7 linked regions of the Homo sapiens genome follow. The protein of the gene in region 1 purifies or fractionates together with the protein of each later gene. This does not show direct contact. Each region holds a gene or a part of one and is shown in the gene's direction. Other genes may lie near its edges. The genes, in order: KLHL13, MKLN1, PAEP, COPS4, PCDHGB5, ZMYM4 and MIER1.

Region 1 (3,249 bases):
AATCCTGTCTTTGGCTTCAAGCAGATGAAGATGATATCTGGAAGTCTTTTTAGACCCCGTTTCTGATAGGATGTGTGGTTTAATTACTTCTAAAAGCTTCCCATTAATGGCTTTGCTAATGCCAAGTACCAATCAATGCACTAGGTTTTCTCTTATGTGGCGAGAGAGAGAGAAGGAGAGAGAGAGAGAGAGAATAATAATGTAGGATTTTGCTTGTCCGTTAGGTAAAAGTCATGCCAAAGGCAAATAGAAATGAACATTTGAAAAGGCATCCAGTGACTGGAAATAGTAAAAAAAAACAACAGTACTGGGGCATGTGGCAGTTTAACTTGTTATTAATTTTAGAAATAGGGTTTAAAAGAAATAGAATTGGCAAGGATCCAGGCCTAAAGCAATGAACAAAGCCAACAAAGCAGTAGGTAAAAATGAGAATAGTAAAAGCCTTTGAAATAAGACTGAAAATTCAAAGCTAAAGTAAGTGGAAAAGGAAGTCAGTAGAGAGATACAAGAAGTGGCATGATATAGGTGTGCTTGGAGGAGAAAAGCATACTTTGCGTAGTGAATTTGATGATGAAATGAAATTATTGAATAGAGCGGAAAAGTAGTCTCTCTCTCTCTCTCTCTCTCTCTCGCTCTCCTCTCTCTCTCTCTCTGTGTGTGTGTGTGTGTGTGTGTTTTGCCTGTCACCATGTTATTTTTTTTTAAGTAGAGAATCTCATTCAAAGGTTGATTCATCAGGATTGCATTTGGTTGCAAGTAGCTAAACCTAATTCCAGTGGCTTGATCAAATTGTCCTACTCAATAAACTTCTGCTTACCCGTCGCTGCCCAGAACTATATCATATGGTGGACCAAAGCTTCAAGGGAACCTGCTAAATTAAATTTCGTTTTTAGCTTGGTGTAGTGCTTCCCTAAGCAGTGTTGTGGTTCTGTTAGTTTAAAAAAGTAGGGTTGGGGGACGCAAGAAATTGGATTAGCAGTTGGCAGTGTCTGCAATAAATAATATGAACTTTTCAAGTCAATCTAGACCTCATGCTTTTGATGAGTTCTCTTAACAGCTTCTCTGCCTTTTAAAAAGTGATTACATTTTCCATCTTTCTTGGTGACATTGTTCTGTTCTTGAGGTTATAACAGACTGATTGAAAGATACTTAAGTGAGTTGAGGTCACTTCTCCAAAATACATTATGTTAAAAGATGATAAATACATTACTGACAGGAAGTATTCTTAATAAAGATCTTCATATTATGCCGCCAACCATCTTCAGGTTAAGAGTAGTACTGGCTGCAATGATGGTGGGTATATACGAACTATTAGCTTTAAAGTATAAATGTAGAGAAATTATTATCAGTGTCCATTTTGTAGTCTGTATATGAATTAAAGCAGTGGGCTTCAGAACATAAACCAAGAAGTGTGTATATTTTCATTCTCAATGTAAAAGTTTGCTTCTTATGTATTAACGTTTGTTTCTATCAACATGGGGACCCAGAATTGAGGAGTTTTTCATTTCTTTTGATTTTTTTCATCCTTTCTTCCTATGTTTTTAGAGCAAAGAAAATGGAGAAATGTCAAATTATAAATATGTAAGCAGATTACAGAATAAATCTTAGTGATTTCTGCAATGACAGAAATTTGTTAGATTCTTACACTATCTAGTCTAATGTAACATGTACTAATGGTTTATATTATTAATATAGTCTCAATAATTACTGTAAGAGCTCCCCCAAAGTCTTACACATATCTATCATAGCTATAATAGATATGTTTCAAGTGTTTGGATATTATTACTGTTCCACTTAAGAGAAAAATAATTAATTGCTAAATTTGAAGTTAAAAATAATTTTCTTTTCTTTTTTTTTTTAACAGCCACAGTAGAATGTTACAATCCAAGAACAAATGAATGGACCTATGTTGCCAAAATGAGTGAGCCCCACTATGGCCATGCTGGAACTGTGTATGGAGGAGTGATGTATATTTCAGGTAAACAAGTATCATGTGAACACAATATAATATATAAGCTTTTAACTATATGGTTATCTTTCCATATAGTGGTAGTAATAATAATAATAATTCAGGCGTCAGGAGTTTGAGACCAGGCGGGCCAACATGGTGAAATCCTGTCTCTATTAAAAATACAAAAATTAACTGGGTGTGGTGGTGCACGTCTGTAATCCCAGCTACTTGGGAGGCTGAGGCAGGAGAATCTCTTGAACCCAGAAGACGGAGGTTGCAGTGAGCCGAGATTGCGCCACTGTACTCCAGCCTGTGTGAAAGAGCGAGACTCCATCTCAAAAAAAAAAAAAATCCAGAAAAACGGAGAATCAAAATATAATTTATGTTGATTTTAGAAACTATTTTTGTGTGTATTTGCATATGAATGTCTTGGGCATTCTGTAAATTTATAAGAGTACTAGTAAACCAATCCTGTTGTAAGGTATAACTTAGAAAAAATTGGAAAGCATTCAAATTTTGCTTTCCAGTCCCCATGCTCTGTATTCTGATAAACACCATTCATAGTTTCTGTAGCAACAATTAATTCATTTTATTTAAGATTTAGCTAAACTATGTGAAGGAGTGTATCATTATATAACATATAAGTTCTCCTATGCATAAAACGTGCTTCCAATATGCATAATAGTACATAATAATGTTCATTCTCTCTTTCAGTATAGTCCATAATATGGGTTTCCTTCTTCCTTAGCATTATAGGGGGATTCTACTATGGTGTCATTGCATAAATATTTCTGTGCTGATTATCTGTATTTTATGCACATGAAGATATATTTTTCTGTTAAAAAATTCTGAAATGGCTATAGTTTGTTCACAGTGTCCCAGTAGCAACTTTCATTCTCAAATTGTTGGTGTTTAAATCAATCTACTGTAGAATTTCTTTCTTTTTTTAATGCATTTTCTGCTTTCATTCTCCTGTAGAATTTAGGAAGAAGTCTCACTTTAATGTAATGACCACCTCTGGTATTGACATTTAACTTTGTTAGTCAGGTTATTATCATTTGGCCCTGACACACTCTGCCTGGGACAATTCTTCCCCATATGAAGGCCTGCCAGTGCCAGGCCAGCAGTTACATTACTAGAGACCAAGGGTGTAAAGGCACTATTTGTGACCTGATTGACCACTGCCTTATGAAATTTTTAATCAATAAGAATCAATGAAAGGCCTATAGTATATGATTGGCAGGTTTCTGGTGTTAAATTCATGAGCAACTACAGAATGTCTTATATTGGAAGAGCCA
Region 2 (3,500 bases), on another chromosome or scaffold:
ACATTTTTACTTTGAGACTAAAAAAAGGCCTTTTATTTTTGTGTGCTTAGAGATTGCCTGTATTTTACTTTTTTTCTGAAATTTACACCTAATTTAATAATTAAATACACTTATTTAAATAATTCATAAAATTACATATACTCTTATACATAAAAATATTTTGTAAACTGCTAATCCCTGTACTCAAATGTTTATTTTTGTATCTAATAATGATGCTAGTTACAATTTAGTGAGCACCTAATATATGCAAGATGCTTTTTGTATACAGTTTTGTTTAATTCTTGGTACATACCTGTAAGATAGGTATTTTATATATGTTTTGTGGAGGATGAAACTGAGGTCCATACAGGGTAAGTAGCTTGCCCAGGGTCATATAGTTTTCCAGAGGCTTGCCAGGTTTTCTGACTTAAAAACTATTGCATTGTGACTTTAATAACAGTCACCACTTATTGAGTACTTTCTATTCTTCAGGCACTGTACTGAGCATTTAGCATGTGTTCTTTGATATAATAGTCTTCACAAAAACCCTATGAGATAAATATTATTATTCTATTTTAGAGCTAGGAAAAGTGAGATTTAGGGAGGTAAGTTAACTTGCCCAGGTCTAAGAGTTGAAAATGTAAGAGGGGCAGGGCAGGGTGGCTCACACCTGTAATCCCTGCACTTTGGGAGGCCAAGGCAGGAGGATCACTTGTGCCCAGGAGTTTGAGACCAGCATGGGCAACACAATGAGACCCCATCTGCAATAATAATAATGATGAGGAGGAAGAAAATGTAGGTGATAAGGTTCTCATATTGGGCCTTTTGACTTCTGTTACGAAAGCTGTTCATTATTATACATGGCTATTGTATATGTCTAATTGAGATTACAGATAAGCGCTCTAAGGTTAGAACAGCAAGAGAGGGAAAAATAGATTTTATCTTGATGTTTAAGATTTTAGTATACTCATATGAGAACTGGGAGAAACTTTGAAAGTATTTTTTACATATTAGGTAATTTCATTGGTATAGAATGATTCTTATCTTGTTTACATATTATTGAATGACTTAGATAATTTAGATGATAAAATCTGATAGATTTTTAAGTGTGTTTACCTTTTTCCTGTTAGTCTTATTACTTAAAATCAAATAGTACTTAAAATAGTACCTTGTGTCAACATGTGATTGATTCATGGTTCAGAGTACAAGTGTTATGATTTGACAACTAGAATAGAAGGTGAATTTATTTCAACTCTTTTCAAAACTAATTTTAAAATTTCACATTTAAAAATGAATATAGGCTAGGCACGGTGGCTCATGCCTGTAATCCTAGCACTTTGGGAGGCTGAGGCAGGACCATCACTTGAGACCAGGAGTTTGAGACCAGCCTGGGAAACATACCCCATCTCTACAAAAGAAAAAAAATATATAAATATTTATATATTTTTATTACATAAAATATATGTGCATAGTTATATATTATTATGTTAAAAATATGTAAATATATATATATTCTTTTCTTCTTTGTCTCTACAAAAGAAAAAGACAGCATCTCGTCAATACCCCATGTCTAAGAAAAAAATAGACACTTTTTATATCATATATATTAAAATATATTTTATATATCTTTTAATATATATTTTGATGTAAAAAATGCTCTATGTTTATTATCGAATATTTGTAAAATATGGACCCACAGAAACAAAATTTAAATTACCCTTGATATCACTACCTAAAGATTACTAGTCACCCTTTAAATACTGTTTATTATCATTCCAGATCTTTTACTGTAGATGTATGTATTTTTCAATTTACTGTTGTCCTGTTTGCTGTTCTGTATTTGCTTTTTCCTCCTTAACATATAGTAAATACTTCCTTATGTTATTAAATATTCTTCTATATTGTATTTTTTTTCTTTTTTTTTAAAGGGACAGGGTCTTGCTCTGTCACCCATGCTGGAGTACAGTGGCATGATCATAGTTCACTGCAGCCTCGACCTCCTGGGCTCAAGCGATCCTCCAGCCCCAGTTTCTCAAGTAGCTGGGACTACAGGCACATGCCATCACGCCTGGCTAATTTTTTTTTTTTAGATGGAGTCTCGCTGTGTCACCCAGACTGGAATTTAGTGGCACCATCTTGGCTCACTGCAAACTCTGCCTCCTGGCTTCAAGCAATTCTTGTGCCTCAGCCTCCTAAGTAGCTGGTATTACAGGCGTGCACCACCACGTCTGGTTAATTTTTGTATTTTTGGTAGAGACACTGTTTCACCATGTTGGCCAGGCTGGTCTTGAATTCCTGACCTCAAATGATCCACTTGCTTTGGCCTCCCTAAGTGCTGGGATTACAGGCATGAGCCACCATGCCCAGCCAACCATGCCTGGCTAATTTTTTAAATTTTTTTGTAGAGATGGGGTCCCACTATGTTGCCCAGGCTGGTCTCCAGCTCCTGGGCTCAAGTGATCCTCTCACCTCAGTGCCCCAAAGTGCTGCGATTGTAGGTGTGAGCCACTGTGCCCAGCCAAAATTTATTATGGATACATTATATTCCATGTAATGACTTTATGTCATTTTGTTTAATTGGTCCCGTGTTATTAGACATTTAGGCTTTGTGGTTTTATTTTATTTTCATTTGTGTTTCTTGTTATTTGACTATTATGAGTCATGAGGTAGTTTTGCTTTACAGAAATTTTTTTTTTTTTGAAACGGAGTTTCGCTCTTATTGCCCAGGCTGGAGTGCAATGGCGCAGTCTCGGCTCACCGCAACCTCTGCCTCCCGGGTCCAAGCGATTCTCCTACCTCAGCCTCCCAAGTAGCTGGGATTACAGGCATGTGCCACCATACCCAGCTAATTTTTTGTATTTTTAGTAGAGACGGGGTTTCTCCGTGTTGGTCAGGCTGGTCCCGAACTCCTGACCTCAGGTGATCCGCCCACCTCGGCCTTCCAAAGTGTTGGGATTACAGCCACCACACCCAGCCTGGAAAAAAATTTTGAACTCATTGGTGATAAATTCCTAGATGTTGAGTTGCTGGATTAAAGGTATCAGTTTATTTTCCTTCTATCTGTGTAGACTACTCTGAGTTCATTTTGGCATTATCCTTGGTAATTTGGAAGAAAACATATTTAAATCAGAGACAGGTCCGTAGAGATGTCTAGAGGATGCTTATATAATTCAAAAGTGATAATGCTCCCAATAACTTTTTTGTTTCTTCCTTCTCTATCCCTTTACTTTAGCTTTTAAGTGAATTTTGATTTTATTAATCACATATAGTTGAAAAATAGAATATATTTATTGTATTTGGTGTACAGATAATGGTGGTTATGAAAATGGATTTGAGGTCTTGTTACAATAATTCTGTAGGCTCCTGCAACCCAGAATTTGTGAACCACTAGTTTGGAGGCATGCAACTCCCAGGAGACCGGATACTATTATGCCCTTCCTTTTCTCCCTTTTCTCCCTATCTTAAACTGAGATTTAAGGACACTGGCCCTGTTTGGGAACCTTACTGGCCACTGAAAGTTC
Region 3 (4,061 bases), on another chromosome or scaffold:
AAGACTTGGCCTCAAAAAAATGTATATATGTATATATGTGTGTGTGTGTGTCACACACATGTCTATAGCTACCTACAAAATATCTTGCTGAGAATTTGATAGGAATTGCATTAAATCTCTAGGTTGAGTTGAGGAGAGCTAACACCTTTGCTGTGTTGAAGCTTCCAGCCCATGAACACATTGTGCCTGTCCTTTACCTTAGGTCTTTGATTTCCCTTCCTTGGGTTCAGAGTTTAAGTCCTGTCCATATTTGGTGAGATTTTTGCCTACATGCTGTGTGTGTGATTACAAATCCTGAATTTCCAGTTTCGGGTTCTGTCTACTCCTTGACACTGTGTGGGAACACGGTGGATTTTTGTGCGATTGACCTTGCTGACCTCACTCGGTTCTAGGAGGGGTTTTGTAGAGTTCTTGCAATTTTGTACCTGGGCAATGATGTTATATGCGAATAGAGACAGGTATACCTCCCCCTTCCCAATCTGCCTGCCTTTAGTTACCATTTCTTGCCTAGCTGCTCTGGCCGGAATGACCTGCTCTGATGGATGGGGGAGTGGGAGTGGACACCCGTGTCTTGCCTCAGGACTCAAGTGCTCTCCAGGGAGTGAGATGCGGGCTCGATTGTAAGTTACAAAGTGATGCTTCCCTGTGGGAAAAAGTACATCCAATATAGACTGTAGGACAAAGTCTGAAAGTCCACTGCCTCCCATTTCCACCCAGTCTTGCCTGTGAGTCAGAGAGAAACAGTGCTAACAGGCAGTGTGCACCTGTCCAGAGGCTGGCTGTTTGAGGGACACAGGTGTGCACACCTGGGGATGTCTGAGTGGAAGGTACAGGTCAGGATTATGACCGTGCAGTCAGTCACCCACTGGCATGATGTCTGTGGCATCCTGGGGCAGCCATGGGGCTCTCAGGCCCTCTGCCTGCCCCACAGGCCATACCCCTGCCCTGGACACAGCTGTCCTCAGTGCTGGCCTCTGACCCAACATTGTCCAGGAGCCCCAACCCAGAAGGTGCTCCCGCCGCTGCCAGCCTGGACCCGACCCAGGCCCCTCCCGCCTGAGGCCCTGCCAAGAACTGCCCAGCCCGGACACAGAGGAGGTTCCCGCGTGGACGCAGGGAAGAGCCTCCCATTGCCCCAGTGGAGGAAGCTGCCCAGGGGCCAAGGATGAGTCACAGGTTCGAGGAATCACATGGCGAGGCTGTGGGCGGGGATCTTGTCTGCCCTCCTCCTACATAAGGCCCCCTGAGCCCACACTGCCTCAGCATCCCTCTGGCTCCAGAGCTCAGAGCCACCCACAGCCGCAGCCATGCTGTGCCTCCTGCTCACCCTGGGCGTGGCCCTGGTCTGTGGTGTCCCGGCCATGGACATCCCCCAGACCAAGCAGGACCTGGAGCTCCCAAAGGTTTGAGGCTGGGGGAGCGGGCACTTTACTGTGGGAGGCCTGGGGCGGGTGGGAGCTGCGGGCAGGCAGGAAGCCCAGGATCTCAGAAACCTACAGGAAGCACAGAATGGACGCCATGACGTCAGGAAGCCCTCAGCCCTGCTCTCCATCTTTAGGGTGGCCTCTCTGGTTTCCCAGCATCCTAGGTGACTCATTATTTGGACTTTGGAACACTCCTGAGTTAGCACACACTGGTCATTTTAAGTACAGGAAATTTCATAGCCCAGGATCTGGTAGATAGCAGACAACCATCCAATGCTCACTGTACCCATCCCAGTTAGACTCAGCCCCGTCTGCACCGGGTGCAACGAGAGCCATGGTGGGGTGGGACCGCCGTGCAGCCCAAGGCCCCCTCAGTTGGCAGGGACCTGGCACTCCATGGCCATGGCGACCAACAACATCTCCCTCATGGCGACACTGAAGGCCCCTCTGAGGGTCCACATCACCTCACTGTTGCCCACCCCCGAGGACAACCTGGAGATCGTTCTGCACAGATGGTGGGTTTCTCATCATTGAGACGGGCTGGGCGGGGGCTCAGTCTCCCCCCTCAGGGGTCCAGGACTGGGTGGGTTGGGCGGAGCTGGACTTAGCCCCAGGCATTTTCTGACAGCCAGGGGCTTCACTGTGGCCCTTCCATGAGGGTGGGGTGGAAAACCAGGGCTCCAGACGTTCCCTGTCCCCTTGGATCCCCTGCCCCAGGCTCTGGGCCAACAGCCAACCACACAGTGCAGCCCCAGGTCAGACTGAGGAGAAGGTCTGGGCGGCTGCGGGCTGCGGTGCTCCTTGGACCCGGGGAAGTTCCCGTGGTGACCTGATTTTAGGAGTGACAGTGAAGGCAACTCCAATTCAAGTGGCCACTCATCCTATTGTCACCACCTTTCAGGGAGAACAACAGCTGTGTTGAGAAGAAGGTCCTTGGAGAGAAGACTGAGAATCCAAAGAAGTTCAAGATCAACTGTGAGTGTCCCCAGGCCCCAAGGGCTGGCTCAGTGCTGGCATGCTAGCCACGCTCTCCCAGAGGCGGCTCTGCTGGGGCATGAGGGAGTGGGGCCTGGCCTGTCCCCACTCTCTCTGCTTCAGGGAGTCAGAGTGTTTACTCCGGTCAACCTGATGCTGACCCCAGAGGCATCTTTTACCTGGAGGGCAGGGGAAGCACTAATTCTTGGCATGACATGACTGGATGTGGGTCTGCACTGTGCCCAGGCACAGGGGACAGGTGCTTTGTTGCACTGTTCACTCTGGCCTCACAAAAGGCCAGGGAGGCTGCAGGCGAGCAGGTGGGCAGGTGGGCAGGTGGGTAGGTGGGTAGGTGGATATGTATACAGGTGGGCAGGAGGGTAGGTGAACAGGTGGGTAGGTGGGCAGGTGGCTAGGTGAGTAAGTGGTTAGGTGAACAGGTGGGCAGGTGAGCAGGTGGTTAGGTGAACAGGTGGGCAGGTGGGTAGGTGGGTAGGTATACAGGTGGACAGGTGGGTAGGTGGACAGGTGGGCAGGTGAGTAGGTGAACAGGTGGGTGGGTGAACAGGTGGCCAGGTGAACAAGTTGGTAGGTGGGCAGGTGGGTAGGTGAACAGGTGGGCAGGTGGGCAGGTGGGCAGGTGGGCAGGTGGGCAAGTGGCTGCTGTTCCCGTGGGCCTGGCTGCCTCCTGCGCACTCTGGGGCTGCAGCTCTGGTCTTAGGCTGAGCTCCCAGGCCTCTCTGGGGGAAGAGAGAGGGGCTTACAGCATGTCCTTGGTCCACTGAATTCTTCCTAACAATTTGCAACATTTTGTTCTATTTTGTTAATTATTATTTTTTTAAAAAGACAGAGGTGGTCAGGGTCTGGGGCCTCTTATCCCCTCATGGGCACATTTTCCCAGCAAATACAGTTTGCTTCTCATGCTTGGGACTTGCCTCAGGCCTTTCTGACCCTGCTTGCCCTCCCCAGAATCGAGCCACTCTCCAAGGTCCATTTCTTCTCCCTCTTCCCGCCCCTGTGCCCTGTTCCTGTGCCATCTCCCGCCATCCTCACCCGTACGTGACTTCTCAGTTGGAGTCTCTCCAGGTCACAGCCTCCCTGCCTGCCGTGTCTGCCTCTCCACGGCACACCTGGCCTCTCCCCCTCAGCCGGGGCTCCATGGCCCTCCACATTGCCTCTCCTCCCCTTTCCTCCCTGGCTTCCCTGATCATGGTCCACAGCAGGGGCCACGTCCCATGGTGTCAGTGGATGAGGAAGCCACTTAGTGTGGTGGGATGTCCACACACCTGCACAGGACTCTGCTGAGACGGAGGCTTCATCTTCCTTTTGGTTCTTCTCTTCTTTCCCCAGATACGGTGGCGAACGAGGCCACGCTGCTCGATACTGACTACGACAATTTCCTGTTTCTCTGCCTACAGGACACCACCACCCCCATCCAGAGCATGATGTGCCAGTACCTGGGTGGGTCTCACAGCACATGAGCTCAACGTGGGTGAGAGGCAGCAGCTACGTCCGTGGCTGGGAACCCTGGGGAGCTGACAACTGGCTTCCTGTCCACCTCGGTGCCTGTGGGCTGACTTTTTTTTTCTTGGTTTTTTTTATTTGTTTGTTGTTTGCTTTGTTTTTTTGAGAAAGGGTCTCATTCTGTCACTCAGGCTGGAG
Region 4 (3,500 bases), on another chromosome or scaffold:
ATTCAGGTCACCTCAAATAATGTTTTTGTGTGTCTATGTATTGCACAGTTGAAGGAAATATAGCTTATCTTTTAAGGCATTTGAAAGGAAATTGACTTTGTAGTTTAAATTCAAAAATAAAACCTTCAAGAAAAAGTGACACCTTAGATTCAGTAACAGAATTATAGATTCATTCTTTCTTGTGATGAGCTTGAAAACTTAAAAAATTCTGGTATACTATACTGAAAACTAGATGAAGTGGTACCTTATATAATTATAGATTTAATATCTCTTGTGATAGACTAGAAACTTAAAAAAAAATCTGTGGTATACTATAAAGAAAACCACAAACTATAGTACTATGAAAGAAACCAAGGTATGTAGAAATGAATAAATACACATCAAAGTTTGCATTAGAAAATATAGTACCCTCAGAACATTATTTTCATTTGGTATTGTTGTAGGTATCGTCAGATCCTGGAAAAAGCCATTCAGTTATCTGGAGCAGAACAACTAGAAGCTTTGAAAGCTTTTGTGGAAGCAAGTAAGTGAAATGGAAATTTCATGCTTGCCTTGTATTACTGAGCTAGGACTTTAAAGTTCTCTCAAGCCTTGTTTTGTATCAAATTATCAATATTAAATATGCATTGAGATTGATTGATTTTAGAATTTAAACTGTTTACAACTTGATTAATTTTCAGTGAATTATCTTCAGAATTACAATCCTAATTAAAGTTTTGTATGTTTATTGTTATAATAGCTGATAAGGGACAATATAGCATAATAGTAAAGAGAATAGTTTGGATTCAAATCCTGGTATGCTATTTTATGAGCTGTGTGATCTTGGGTCAATTATTTAACCTCTCTGTGCCTCCTTTTCCTCTTTAAAATGTACTCTGTAGTACATCTAATGTACCTAAAATGTACTCTATAGTACATTACTGTACTACAGGGTAGTACAGTACTGTACTTTGAGAAGTGTCTGCTTATGTCCCTTGTCAATGTTTTAATGGGGTTGTTTTCTTAATGTTCAACATCACTAATCATCAGAGAAATGCAAATCAATGTGGGATGCCATCTAATATTAGTCAGAATGGCTACTATTAAAAAGTAAAAAAATAACAAATTCTGGTTAGACTTCAGAGAAAATGAAATGCTTATACACTGTTGGTGAGAATGTAAATTAGTTCAGCCACTGTGAAAAGCAGTTTGGAGATTATTCAAAGAATTTAAAGCAGAAGTACCATTCAACCAGCAATTCCATTACTGAGTATATATCCAAAAGAAAATTAAAAATTCCACAAAAAGAAACCCCACATGCACTTGTATATTCGCCATATTGCTATTCACAATAAGGAAGGCATGGACTTAACTTATGTGTGAATCAATAAATTGGATAGAAATATGTGCCACATATACACCATAAAATACTACGCACACATTAAAAAGAATACAATCATGTCCTGTGCAGCAACATGCATATGTCTGTAGGCCATTATCCTAAGGAATTTTATAGTGAGTTCACATGGAATTTTATAGTGAGTTCACATCATTAATGATATCTGATAGTGCTTTACAGTGTGTTCTCACACACATTACCTGTCACATAGGCTCCTTTTAATAACCTGTGACTAGAACGTATAGGTACAGGTATCCCTGTATAATATATTGTAAGACAAGTCTCAGGATTGAGTAACTTTTTTTCAAGGACATTTAGCTGGCAGAGCCCAGATCAGAAACTAGGTTTTCTGATACACTGCTCTTACTTGCTTATATTTCCCTGAGTAATACCAGCTTGTATGGTAACTTAAATGCCTAATGACACTTGTAATGAAACTGTTTTCTCAGTCACATCCTGTATTACCCAATAATGAATTCCAATTAATATGTGATTAATTAATTACAACTGCCTTAAAAAAATACTGCCTTAAAAAGTTACTGCCTTAAAACTTAAAAGGTTACTGCCTTAAAAAATCATGGCCTCCGGTGTGAGATAAACTAGCAATGGTTTCCAAAAAACTGTTAGGAGTGGTTTATTAAGAACTTTGCACTGTAGTAGCAGAAGAATAATGCTTTTTATAACTTTGATCTTGGCTGGGCACGGTGGCTCATGCCTGTAATCCCAACACTTTGCGATTACAGGTATGAGTCATGGCACCCAGCCAAGGGATCACTTGAGCTCAGGAGTTCAAAACCAGCCTGGGCAATGTGGAGAAATCTCGTCTCTACAAAAAAATACGAAAATTAGCCTGGCGTGGTGATGCATGCCTGTAGTCCCAGCTATTGGGACGCTGAGGTGGGAAGACTGCTTGAGCCCCGGTGGTCGAGACTGAAGTGAGCTGAGGTTGCATCACTGCGCTCCAGCCTGGGCAGCAGTAAGATTGTCTCAAAAAAACAATTAAAAAACATATATATATATATTTTTTGATCTTTGTATAAGCTTTGAATCCAGTAAACCACCAGGAAAAGCAGTCTACTGTTAAAATCATTTACATCAACTGAACAGTTTTTGAATCACTTATTTTCATATTAACTGCTGCTTTAAGACTTGAATAATTGGCCGGGGCCATGGCTTACGCCTGTAGTCCCAGCACTTTGGGAGACCGAGATGGGCGGATCACGAGGTCAGGAGATCAAGACCATTTTGGCTAACACGGTGAAACCCTATCTCTACTAAAAATACAAAAAAATCAGCTGGGCGTGGTGGCGGGTGCCTGTAGTCCCAGCTACTCAGGAGGCTGAGGCAGGAGAATGGCATGAACCCGGGAGGTGGAGCTTGCAGTGAGCCAAGATGGTGCCACTGCACTCCAGCCTGGGCGACAGAGCGAGACTCAGTCTCAAAAAAAAAAAATAATAATAATAAAAAAGACTTGAATAATTTATCTAAGCAATAGTTTACAAGAATGATGCATTTAAAATGATAGTTATAATAGTAACATTTGTTGAGTGCTATGTACCAGGTATTGTTTAAAGTGCTTTGTGTATATTATTGCATTTAAGCTTCATAACAACCTTATGAAATAGATGTTACACATGAGGAAACAGAAGCACAGAGAAGCATAGAGAAGTTAAGTTTCTTGTCTGAAGTCATATAATCAGTAGTGGTAGAAGCAGTGTGGCTCCAGAGCTTAATCACATAAAATAATACCTCGTAAATGTTTATAAATAATGTCAATACATCTAGTGCTCACTGAAGTTCTTATTTATTGTTTTTATTGGGAAAGTATAAGTGGCAATAACTGTACTGGCAGCACTTGCTTTATTTAAATTTCATGAAAATTATTTTACTGTTTTCTTTTTTAACTCCTTTTTGGAACAAGGTAGGATATAAGCACATAAATAAAAATATAGGTGTTTTTGTGCCTTCACTTTGTAGAAAAATGAGATAAAATTATCAACTTTTAAAACTTTTTTCAATTATTTCTGTTTCTTAGAAAAGTTGTGTTATTTTTACTGTTTTTTAAGATTTTTTAATTAATTAATGAATTAATTAATTTTGAGACAGAGTCTAGCTCTGTTGC
Region 5 (3,500 bases), on another chromosome or scaffold:
TTCACTGGTAGTTTTCATCTCTTTCTTATGTTCCTCATATATGCTTTCTTATTCCTACCTAATGGATTTATGATTTTTTGAATCTCCTAAAATTTTATTAAAAATACTATATGTTGGCTGGGTGCAGTGGCTCATGCCTGTAATCCCAGCACTTTGGGAGGCCGAGGCGGTTGGATCACATGGTCAGGAGTTCAAGACCAGCCTGGGCAATATGGTGAAAACCCGTCTCTACTAAAAATACAAAAATTAGCTGGGTGTGGTGGCGGGCGCCTGTAATCCCAGCTACTCAGGAGGCTAAGACAGGAGAATTGCTTGAACCTGGCAGGTGGAGGTTGCGGTGAGCCGAGATCACTCCATTGCATTCCAGCCTGGGCAACAAGAGCAAAACTCCATCTCAAAAAAAAGGAAGGAGAAGGAGAGGAAGAAGAAGAAAAATACTACATGTTATGTGTATGAGAGAGAAAGAGAGAGACTGATTCACTGAACTTAGAAGGTCCAAATCATCCAAATAATTTTCTAAGTTTATCCAGGTTTTCTTGGATGCAAAATCCTTTTCCACCTCTATATAATTACCAGAAGAAACTTACAAAAAAAAGGAAATGCTATTGCCTGAATTTCTCTTGCTCGGAATCCTGACATATTCTTGAAGAAGGGGAAAAAGACACCGGATTTGTCTTATCGTTTGGAGCTTTAAATATAAATGACTGGATGTTTTCTCAACATCCTTGTAGGATGGAAGGTGAATACAGGATTATTCCATTTTTAAGACAAAAACTACTAGTCTTGTGTACATACAAAGCTCCCATTACATGGTATAAGTCTTTTGCTTGGTTTCCCTTAGTATGTGATTCAGTAAATGGGTTCCTTACAAAGTGCTGAGATTTCTTATAATACCACTTACTTTTAACCTTTCAGTAGTTTTCTTTGTTGTATATTTTGTGTTCTTTTTCCCAAATTATTATATAAGTTTAAGTGATGCTTAGAATAATGTTTAAGACCACTTTAAAATTGCATAATTTATTGATGAAGGATTAAAATAGAAACTTGCTTTTCAGTGTATATGCATTTGAATCATTGAAACACAGTCTGTGCATGCATTACATATTCACATTAAAAAACTAAGCATTTTTGAAATAGCAGAAAAGTTTAAGCAATTACAAAAATGTGAAAATTTCCAACTTTAATCCTGTTAATATTTAGCAATATTAGGCGAGAACATCTGTAACTATTGCTGAATTAATATTACTTTTATAATACAAAAATTTAAAATAAACGTTTTTCCAGGAATTTTATCATCAAAATAAACCCCAGAAAATAATTTCAAAGTGGATAATCTATCCTTATATATGTATTAATACAATTATATATTTTACATTTACAAATATATAGGTATAAAAATTAAAAATGAATGTACTTCCAAACAAGATTGCACATAAAAATTACTTCAGAAAATTGTTAAGATACACAGAAAAAATTGAAGCATCATAAAAAGGAAATTATAATAGTTTACATATCTAGAAATAGAGTGCAAAGTTCTACCAAGAATAAGAATAAATTAATATTAAGCAATGGTTTGTGATTTTATAATACACTTACAGAAATTTTATTCCACTTTATTTACAACTCAGATATCTAAAAAATAGATTGCTTTTGAAATACAAATGCAAGAAACAATTGGAGAAATCTAAAATCATAATTAGAAGAGAGTAGTGTTTTCTTTATCAGCCATCTGATATAATGTTACACATCAGTGGGTGTAGTAACGGCTTAGGACTCTGAGCGCCGCTGTTGATCAACTCTAAGCGAAAATCAGGACTCCATCCGGATTTCCAGTTCTGCGGCTACACAAAACCCGGCAGATACCACAAACCTGCTCCCAGGCTGCAGCAAAACTCAGCCTCTTTCTTCTAAGGAAAAGATCACCATACTTTGCAGGGTGGAAGAAAGAACCTGATGAAGCAGCGCGCACAGAGATCCTTTTGAGAAAATTCCAAAGCGAGGCAGCAATGGCAGCTCCAACCAAATGCCAGCTCCGCGGAAGATTAGTCCTGCTATGCTCGCTCCTGGGGATGCTATGGGAGGCCAGGGCCAGTCAGATTCGCTACTCAGTGCCTGAAGAGACAGAAAAGGGCTATATTGTGGGCAACATCTCCAAGGACCTGGCTCTGGAGCCCCGGGAGCTGGCGGAGCGCCGAGTCCGCATCGTCTCTAGAGGTAGGACGCAGCTTTTCTCTCTGAACCCGCGCAGCGGCACCTTGGTCACCGCGGGTAGGATAGACCGGGAGGAGCTCTGTGCTCAGAGCCCGCGGTGTCTGGTGAACTTTAAAGTCCTGGTTGAAGACAGAGTGAAACTGTACGGAATAGAAATAGAAGTAACTGATATTAACGACAGCGCCCCAAAGTTCCAGGCCGAAAGTCTGGAAGTAAAAATTAACGAAATCGCGGTTCCTGGAGCACGTTATCCACTTCCAGAAGCTATTGATCCGGATGTTGGCGTGAACTCCCTCCAGAGCTACCAGCTCAGCCCCAATCACCACTTCTCCCTGAACGTGCAGACTGGAGACAATGGAGCCATAAACCCAGAGCTGGTGCTGGAGCGCGCCCTGGACAGGGAGGAGGCAACTGCCCACCACCTGGTCCTCACGGCCTCGGATGGCGGCGAGCCGCGTCGCTCCAGCACAGTGCGCATCCATGTGACAGTGTTGGATACAAATGATAATGCCCCGGTTTTTGCTCAACGGATTTACCGAGTTAAAGTCCTTGAGAACGTGCCCCCAGGCACCTGGCTGCTTACTGCAACAGCCAGCGACCTGGATGAGGGAATCAACGGAAAAGTGGCATACAAATTCTGGAAAATTAATGAAAAACAATCTCTGCTATTCCAGCTTAATGAAAATACTGGGGAAATATCAACAGCAAAAAGTCTAGATTATGAAGAATGTTCATTTTATGAAATGGAAATACAAGCTGAAGATGGTGGGGGATTGAAAGGGTGGACAAAAGTGCTCATTTCGGTGGAAGATGTAAATGACAATAGACCTGAAGTGACCATTACATCTCTGTTTAGCCCAGTGAGAGAAGACGCACCTCAGGGAACAGTAATTCTTCTTTTCAATGCTCATGACCGAGACTCCGGGAAGAATGGTCAAGTTGTCTGTTCTATCCAGGAGAATCTATCTTTTACATTAGAAAATTCAGAAGAAGATTATTACAGATTGTTGACGGCCCAAATTCTTGACCGAGAAAAAGCCTCAGAATATAATATCACGGTGACTGCAACAGACAGAGGAACTCCGCCCCTGTCCACAGAAATTCACATCACCCTGCAAGTGACTGACATCAATGATAATCCACCTGCTTTCTCTCAAGCCTCCTACTCAGTCTACCTCCCGGAAAACAACGCCAGAGGTACTTCCATCTTCTCCGTGATTGCCTATGACCCTGATAGCAATGAGAATTCTAGAGTTATTTACTCCTTGGCAGAGGATACCATCCAAGGG
Region 6 (3,500 bases), on another chromosome or scaffold:
TTTTGGTCATTATTAGAAAGGCTTGTCTCTGCGACTCAAAAATAATTCTTCCATAGTTTCTTTAATATTACTAAAATAATTCTTCCGTAGTTTATTTAATATTACTGTTTTATTTCTTTATGCCTAAAACTTAGATACATCTGTAAAATTTTTTGATGTGAGTTAGGGATCTCATTTTTCCATATGACTACCCTTTTCTTCAAATACTATATCCTGAATTTAAATGTAATGATAAGGGGCTGGGTGCAGTGGCTCATGTCTGTAATCCCAGCAGTTTGGCAGGCTGAGGTGGGCGGATTGCTTGAGCTCAGGAGTTCAAGACCAAACTGGGTCTCTACAAAAAATACAAAGATTAGCCAGATGTGGCGGCATGCGCCTGTTATCTCAGCCACTTGAGAGGCTGAGGTAGGAGGATTGCTTGAGTCCTGGAGGCGGAGGTTGTAATAAGCTGAGATCATGCCACTGCACGCCAGCCTGGGTGACAGAGCCAGATCCTGTCTCAAAAAATGAACCAACTAACTAAATAAATAAGTAAATGTAGTGATATGGAAAGTTGCTTACAATATTACTTCTTAGTATTGACTTCTCATGCACTATAGAACTCATTGTTCTGACTACATAAAACACCTAATTTTTCATTTATGAAAAATTACAGAGCACATGCTATGTGGTCAGCTACTAATGATGAAACGTTGAGATGGCTCACCTGTAAGTTCTTCAGCATACATCTCCTAAGATTTTAGCATCTGTTTTACTATCTGTTGTCTCAATTGATTATTTTAGAAAGTATAGACAATTTTTCCAATTATATTATTGCCTCTACGTTTATTAGCAAACGTTCTTATGATAGAAACAAGCTTTTATCTCCTTCCCTTTGACATTATGGACTCAAATCATTATTTACCCTCATACTGTTTCTAATTTTCTGTTTATTTTTTCTAGCTCTGTGAGGAGGAAGAGTCATAGCTATCTCTTTCATCATTTTATCCCTAGAACCTAGTGCAATACCTACCACAGAGTGGTTTCCTAATAAATATGTACTGAATGAATGAATACTTCAAGCAGTGGGGAGCTATTGAAGAATCTCAAGGGAGGATGTAATGTGAAATGATTTATATTTTGGAAAGGTAATTCTGATGTCATTATGGAAGAGAGCAACTTGAGCAAAGCTCAGAAAAAAAAAAGAAAGAAACAGGGGGTTGCCCTGTCACATCACCCAGGCTGGAGTGCAGTGGCACAATTATAGCTTGCTGCAGCCTCAAACTCTTGGGTTCAAGTGATCCTCCTTCCTCAGCCTCCTGAGTAGCTAGGACTGCATGTGTGTACCACTACACCTGGCTGATTAAAACAAAATTTTTTTTTGTAGAGATGGGCTTTTGCTATGTTGCCCAGGCTGGTCTTGAACTCCTGGCCTCAAACAATCCTCTGGCCTCAGCCTCCCAAAGTGCTAAGATTATAGGTGTGAGCCACTGTGCCTGGTCCAGGAAAGCTTTCCTTTGGGTTCTGTATCAGTTGGGACCTGATTACAGATAATCCAACTCAAATCAACTTAACAAAAGGAATTTATTGGATTCCATAATCCAGAGAAGGGTTGAAGAACCAGCCACATGAAGGATGTAACTGGGCTTCAGGAACAAATAAGAGCAAGGATGCCAGTGCCACTAATATTTTTAGTCTTCGCCTCACTCTATTTTTATCAGTTCCAGTTTGTTTGCTGATGTATCAATTAAATGTGGTTTAGGCATAGAGTTTATAAGGGTATGGTTGCTTCCTGAGTATCCATGTGGACTGAATTAGTATACCTTTGAAGGTATTGTAGAATCCAGGAGGAGACGTGGAGTATTAGAACTAGGTGCTAAGTGGAAAAGATGGATTTGAGAGAGATAAGTAATAAAGTTGACAGAATTTGTCCAGGGGGAAATCTTGAGCAACTGCTGGTTTGGTGAATCTGTTAACCATCTGAGGGAAATATAAGAAGCATATGCTTGGAATGGGAGGGAACATGATGAGTTTTGATTTTAGAGATGCTAAGTTGGAGAACGTGTAGGAGCTAGTTGAATATAGACATCCGAAATCTTATAAGAAAGGTCTAAGCTTAAGTGCTTAGGAAGTCAGTAGCAAAGGTAAGTGTTATGGAGGTGAACAAAATAGCTCAGTCTGAGTGTAAAAGTAAAGAGAACAGGAATCTTGCAGAAAAGCTAACATTGAAGCCATGTGAACAGAAGAAGAGTATAAAATAAATTATAAGGCAATTAAGGAAAGTAAGAAATAAGAGTACCAAAGAATCCAAAGGAATTTTATCCATGAGGGATATGCCATTTAGGAATTGAAAAAAGTCAATTTGCTTTGACCATTAGGAGATCATTGATGATGTTAATGAGAAAAGTTCCAGTGGAAAGTTGGGAGCTGATTGTATTAAGCTCAAAGGGTTAATGATAGAGATGAAGTAGAAGCAAACTAGGTAGAATTTTTTTCCTACAAGTTTGTGAAGGGAAGATGAATGAGGGCATTGTAGGGTTAGGGCATGAATGAGGGCATTGCTTTGTTTTGTTTTGGAATGGGAGAGATTAGTATATATTAGTAGTTTTAAACAGTAAATAGTCTTTTATTCTAGGTTGGATAAAATTTATTTTTATGTGTAAGTATTAACTGCCGTCAGTGTTTATTAGTGTTAGTGCAGAGAAAATGGGACTCAGACCAAAGACCTGAGTGCTAATCTCAGTTTTCCCTGAATAATCGCCATAATAATTATAATTACCATTTTATATTCCCTTCTATTTGTCAGTCATTGTGTTAGTAGGTCTTTTGTACATACTATCACTAATCCTCACCACAAATTTATCTCCAAGGTGAGTATTATGCTGTTGTATAGATAGACTCTGAGAGTTTACTTTTTAGGATTACATAGATTTTCAGGATCATGCTTTGATTTCAACACAGATATGTCTGATTCTGAAGTTGGTGCTCTTTTCTCTATATCACGTAGCTTTCTTTTCTAACCTAAAGTAGTTTCTCAAGTTTTGGCTCCTTGTTTCCTTAACTGTCAGATAGGAATAGTTATATCTGTCACACCTATATCAAAGTGTTAAATGAATACTATGGTAATATCTGTATTTTGTTTGAAAAAATATTTATTTGGTTAAATACCAGACTGACCTTATCATTGTGGTCATCTTTAGCACTATCATTTGTCTAAACAGTATTTTACTTTTTAAGGTGGTGGTATCATGGATACAGAAATGTCTGAAGATATAGACCACAACTTAACTCCTACCCTTGACAGCATGTCTTATGGAATGCCGAATCAAACAGGATCTGAAAATTCATTGCTGGATGAAGATGATTATTTTTTGAACTCTGGGGATCTTGCAGGAATTCCAGTCGTTGGTAGTGACAATGAGGATGAACAGGATTTTAGTTCAAAGGACAATCTTGTTTCTTCAATTCATACTGATGATAGCTTGGAAGTAGAGAGAAGAGTCACACAGCATGAATCAGAC
Region 7 (3,500 bases), on another chromosome or scaffold:
TAAAGATCTAATGAAATTGTGTGTGTTGACACTGCTTTCATGGTTGCAAGAGAAAAAGACAGTGAAATCAAAGCATCTATCATAAATGCCTGACACATAGAAGATACTTTATGACAGCTATTTGTTATTCTTGTATATAAAACTAGCTTTAGGCTGGGCACGGTGGCTCATGTTTCCAATCCTACATTTTGGGAAGCCAAGGTGGGCAGATCGCTTGCATCCAGGTGTTTGAGACCAGCCTGGGCAACATGGTGAAACCCTTCTCTATGAAAAATACAAAAATTAGCCAGGCATGGTGGTGCACATGTATAGTCCCAGATACTTGGGAGGCTGAGGTGGGAGGATCATTTGAAGGTTGAGGCTGCAGTGAGCAGTGATCATGCCACTGCACTCCAGCCTGGGTGACAGAGCAAGATCCTGTCTCAAAAAATAAATCTAGCCTTTTCATTATATTTCTCTTACTACACTTCTATCTCTTATTTTGAAGTTTTGTTTTAGTTCCTGAGTATTGACTCTCCAGATTCCCAAATACCAATGTCCTGTACCAGATTCTTGGTACATGGACCAGATACTTGAACACTTAAAGCACTGTTGGTGTTGTACTTTGAGAGACACAGTGTAAGAGCTGTCATTTGTTTGCCAGCTGGTTATTTAGCTAGAGTGGCAATACCTTGCCTTGATAAAGTTACCGCTTTTCAGGTTGTAGCTTCTGCAAATCATTAGGGGTCTTGGAATTGATTTATCTTTCAGAAATAGATTCACAAACTCATTCATAACCAGAATATCCATTTGTAATGGGAAATAGAAGTTTTGGATGACAGTTTCTTCCTAGTTCTTCCTAAGAAAATCTTTTCAAATGATAATCATTAATTTCTTCCCACACATGGATTTTGAGTGATGCAGGTTAATTGTATCATCTAATCCAGTCTGATTTACCCATATCCATTGTAGCAATGTGTTTAACACATGAGCTAGACTTACTTCTTTCCATGACTGCTGGAGAAACATAAACCATGTCTTATTTCATGATTACCCTTTTTTTTCTAGCTTCTAAACTGATTGTTTTCTGACTGTTTTGCTTCAGACCATGTGCATTGTATGTGGGTGTGCATGAGTGTATAATATGTTCACATGATTTGGATTAAATTTTCTTTTTATAATCAGAATTCTGTTATGTTTCCCTGATGCTGTGCATTTCTTGTTTACTGGTTAGAGTGAGTAGTTTGTATAGAAAGCTGATTTCATTTCATTGTGTATGGACATTTCTTTTTCATCCACGGAGGGTCTGATTTTTGTGGGGATTGAGGGAAGTCCCTGCCCAAGGCACCATGGTGTATTGATATGAATATGGGCTTTTGGAGTTAGACTGTTTAAATCTGGCTCTACTACTTGTAACTTGTGTGATTTGTGAAGAAATGCTTAACCTGTCAGCCTCTGTTTTCGCATCTATGAAATGGAAATAATATAACAAGTCCGTATGATAGATGGTAAGGATTTCATGAGATGATTTTATATGTAAATGGAGATAACCATAGAGAAGAATATATGGTTAATGTAGTCCATTATCATTTCTGTATATTACTACTGGTTTGTTTGTGTTTTTTTTTTTTTTTTTTTTCATGTGTTCGGGCTGAGCTCTGAATTTTCGTCTGCCTTTCTGGGTTTGTTAACTTATAGTCTATTTCTCATTGTTCTATTTCTCCACCCTCAAGTTAAGTATGGTACTCTTATTAAGAGTGGGCATCCATGCATAGCGTTAACTGTCATTGTGCATATACTGAATTGATTGCAAAAAGAATAGTCCATGTTAGACCAAGGCCACTTTTTAATTATACTTAAAGATCTTGTTGTCAGCAATTATAACTGGTTCATTTTATAGAAATACTTAAAAGATTGGGATATTCCTAGGTTTCAGAAATATTTTCAGTTTTACTTTTTATGATCCGAGAATTCGTAACACAGCTTTTATTCTTCACTATAGAATGAATACTCCACAGATTTGTGGATTATAGCCTGGGAATCAGAAATATCACTGATTCAGAGATTACCTTTTATTTTGATTTATTTAGGAAGGCGACATGCCAATTCATGAACTTCTCAGCCTTTATGGTTATGGTAGTACTGTTCGACTACCTGAAGAAGATGAGGAAGAGGAAGAAGAGGAAGAAGAAGGTGAAGATGATGAAGATGCTGATAATGATGACAACAGTGGCTGTAGTGGGGAAAATAAAGTAAGTCTATATACATATATTTAAGATTGTAGTCTTTATTCTTGTTGAAGTTAAAATTGCTTAATATATTTTGATTACTTGTCTTTATAATCTTTTCCTGATTTTAAAAGTGTTAAAAATTAAGATATTACAGAAATACATAATATAAAAATTGGAAATCCCCTGTAATTTACTCCTGAGGTAACAGTTTGGTCTTGTCATTTCAGGTTTCTTTTTTTCCAGTGCTTATTCTAATTAATTTATACCAACTTTCTAAAAAAATGCTATTGCTTTTAAATAATAAAGGCTAATTGGCAGTTTGTGTTTATTTTTCTTACTTTATTTTGAAATAATTTTAGATTTATAAAAGGTTTAAAGTTAGTATAGAACGTTCCTGTATACTCTTACCTCAACTTCTGCTAAGGTTAACATCTTGGTACAGTGCTATTAACTAAACTGCAGATTGAATTATACCAGTTTTTCTGCTAATGTACTTTTTCCTGTTGCAGGAACCAACCCAGAGGATGATACTACATCTAGTATATTCATTTTAGTCTTCTGCATATATTAGAACAAAATTTATATGCTATGGTCTTTCATCTGCAACTGTTTTCCTTACATCTTAGAGAAATTTAATTTATTATTCCACAGGAGGAGAATATAAAGGATTCATCAGGTCAGGAGGATGAAACTCAGTCTTCCAATGATGATCCATCACAATCTGTTGCTTCTCAAGATGCCCAGGAAATAATCCGCCCACGTCGATGTAAATATTTTGATACAAGTAAGTGTTACTGGTTGATAATATTTGAATATAATTTTTACTATTTTAGGTATTACCTAAAATCCTCTTTTTTAAACTGGTCTTTGAATTCATTTAGTCTGAAATTCTTTTCAACAGTAAATGGATTTTGTTGTAAGTTATTAGTTTAGCAATGCAGGGTCCCTGTTGTTAGTGAATATACTATGGTAATTGTGTCATGTACTACTTGACTTTGGGTGTATTTGTTTTTTCTTTGCCCTGTTTTTAAATGTTTGTTTCATGGTCATCTTTTTGTTTCTCATAGTCTTTCCCTTAGTTTCCATTTTTTACTTTCTTTGCCTCTTAGCCTTTTTTAGGTATATTCATAAATACACCTAAATTTCTCTACTTTAAAAGGAAGAAAAACACTTGAAGAAAAATAAACTGTCATGAAATATGTAGTAAGATAATATTATCTTTATTCTAAATCAGTTTTTTCCCCTAAGTTTTTATAGGAAATCATTTCATGAGAATACAATTATGTAGAA

Evidence for each region.
Region 2: the proteins of KLHL13 (region 1) and MKLN1 fractionate together in Homo sapiens (co-fractionation; one large-scale study listed by BioGRID). This does not show direct contact.
Region 3: the proteins of KLHL13 (region 1) and PAEP purify together in Homo sapiens (co-immunoprecipitation; one large-scale study listed by IntAct). This does not show direct contact.
Region 4: the proteins of KLHL13 (region 1) and COPS4 purify together in Homo sapiens (affinity purification with mass spectrometry; 2 studies listed by BioGRID and IntAct, with this or other methods). This does not show direct contact.
Region 5: the proteins of KLHL13 (region 1) and PCDHGB5 purify together in Homo sapiens (co-immunoprecipitation; one large-scale study listed by IntAct). This does not show direct contact.
Region 6: the proteins of KLHL13 (region 1) and ZMYM4 purify together in Homo sapiens (affinity purification with mass spectrometry; one large-scale study listed by BioGRID and IntAct). This does not show direct contact.
Region 7: the proteins of KLHL13 (region 1) and MIER1 purify together in Homo sapiens (co-immunoprecipitation; one large-scale study listed by IntAct). This does not show direct contact.

The regions. Positions count from the first base shown.
Region 1 is NC_000023.11:117,900,562-117,903,810, reverse strand, and holds part of KLHL13 (kelch-like protein 13), read left to right. Parts: intron 1-1,864; coding exon 1,865-1,978; intron 1,979-3,249. UniProt on the Homo sapiens protein: Substrate-specific adapter of a BCR (BTB-CUL3-RBX1) E3 ubiquitin-protein ligase complex required for mitotic progression and cytokinesis.
Region 2 is NC_000007.14:131,330,876-131,334,375, forward strand, and holds part of MKLN1 (muskelin), read left to right. Parts: intron 1-3,500. UniProt on the Homo sapiens protein: Component of the CTLH E3 ubiquitin-protein ligase complex that selectively accepts ubiquitin from UBE2H and mediates ubiquitination and subsequent proteasomal degradation of the transcription factor HBP1.
Region 3 is NC_000009.12:135,560,495-135,564,555, forward strand, and holds the start of PAEP (glycodelin isoform 1 precursor), read left to right. Parts: upstream 1-1,261; 5' UTR 1,262-1,307; coding exon 1,308-1,403; intron 1,404-1,799; coding exon 1,800-1,939; intron 1,940-2,325; coding exon 2,326-2,399; intron 2,400-3,749; coding exon 3,750-3,860; intron 3,861-4,061. UniProt on the Homo sapiens protein: Glycoprotein that regulates critical steps during fertilization and also has immunomonomodulatory effects. Four glycoforms, namely glycodelin-S, -A, -F and -C have been identified in reproductive tissues that differ in glycosylation and biological activity.
Region 4 is NC_000004.12:83,045,183-83,048,682, forward strand, and holds part of COPS4 (COP9 signalosome complex subunit 4), read left to right. Parts: intron 1-443; coding exon 444-523; intron 524-3,500. UniProt on the Homo sapiens protein: Component of the COP9 signalosome complex (CSN), a complex involved in various cellular and developmental processes.
Region 5 is NC_000005.10:141,400,947-141,404,446, forward strand, and holds part of PCDHGB5 (protocadherin gamma-B5 isoform 1 precursor), read left to right. Parts: intron 1-1,831; exon of another isoform or gene 1,832-2,006; coding exon of another isoform or gene 2,007-3,500. Other genes in the region: PCDHGA9 (protocadherin gamma-A9 isoform 1 precursor), read left to right, coding at 2,007-3,500. UniProt on the Homo sapiens protein: Potential calcium-dependent cell-adhesion protein. May be involved in the establishment and maintenance of specific neuronal connections in the brain.
Region 6 is NC_000001.11:35,355,709-35,359,208, forward strand, and holds part of ZMYM4 (zinc finger MYM-type protein 4), read left to right. Parts: intron 1-3,113; exon of another isoform or gene 3,114-3,216; coding exon 3,217-3,500. UniProt on the Homo sapiens protein: Plays a role in the regulation of cell morphology and cytoskeletal organization.
Region 7 is NC_000001.11:66,955,990-66,959,489, forward strand, and holds part of MIER1 (mesoderm induction early response protein 1), read left to right. Parts: exon of another isoform or gene 1-2,069; coding exon 2,070-2,231; intron 2,232-2,861; coding exon 2,862-2,994; intron 2,995-3,500. UniProt on the Homo sapiens protein: Transcriptional repressor regulating the expression of a number of genes including SP1 target genes. Probably functions through recruitment of HDAC1 a histone deacetylase involved in chromatin silencing.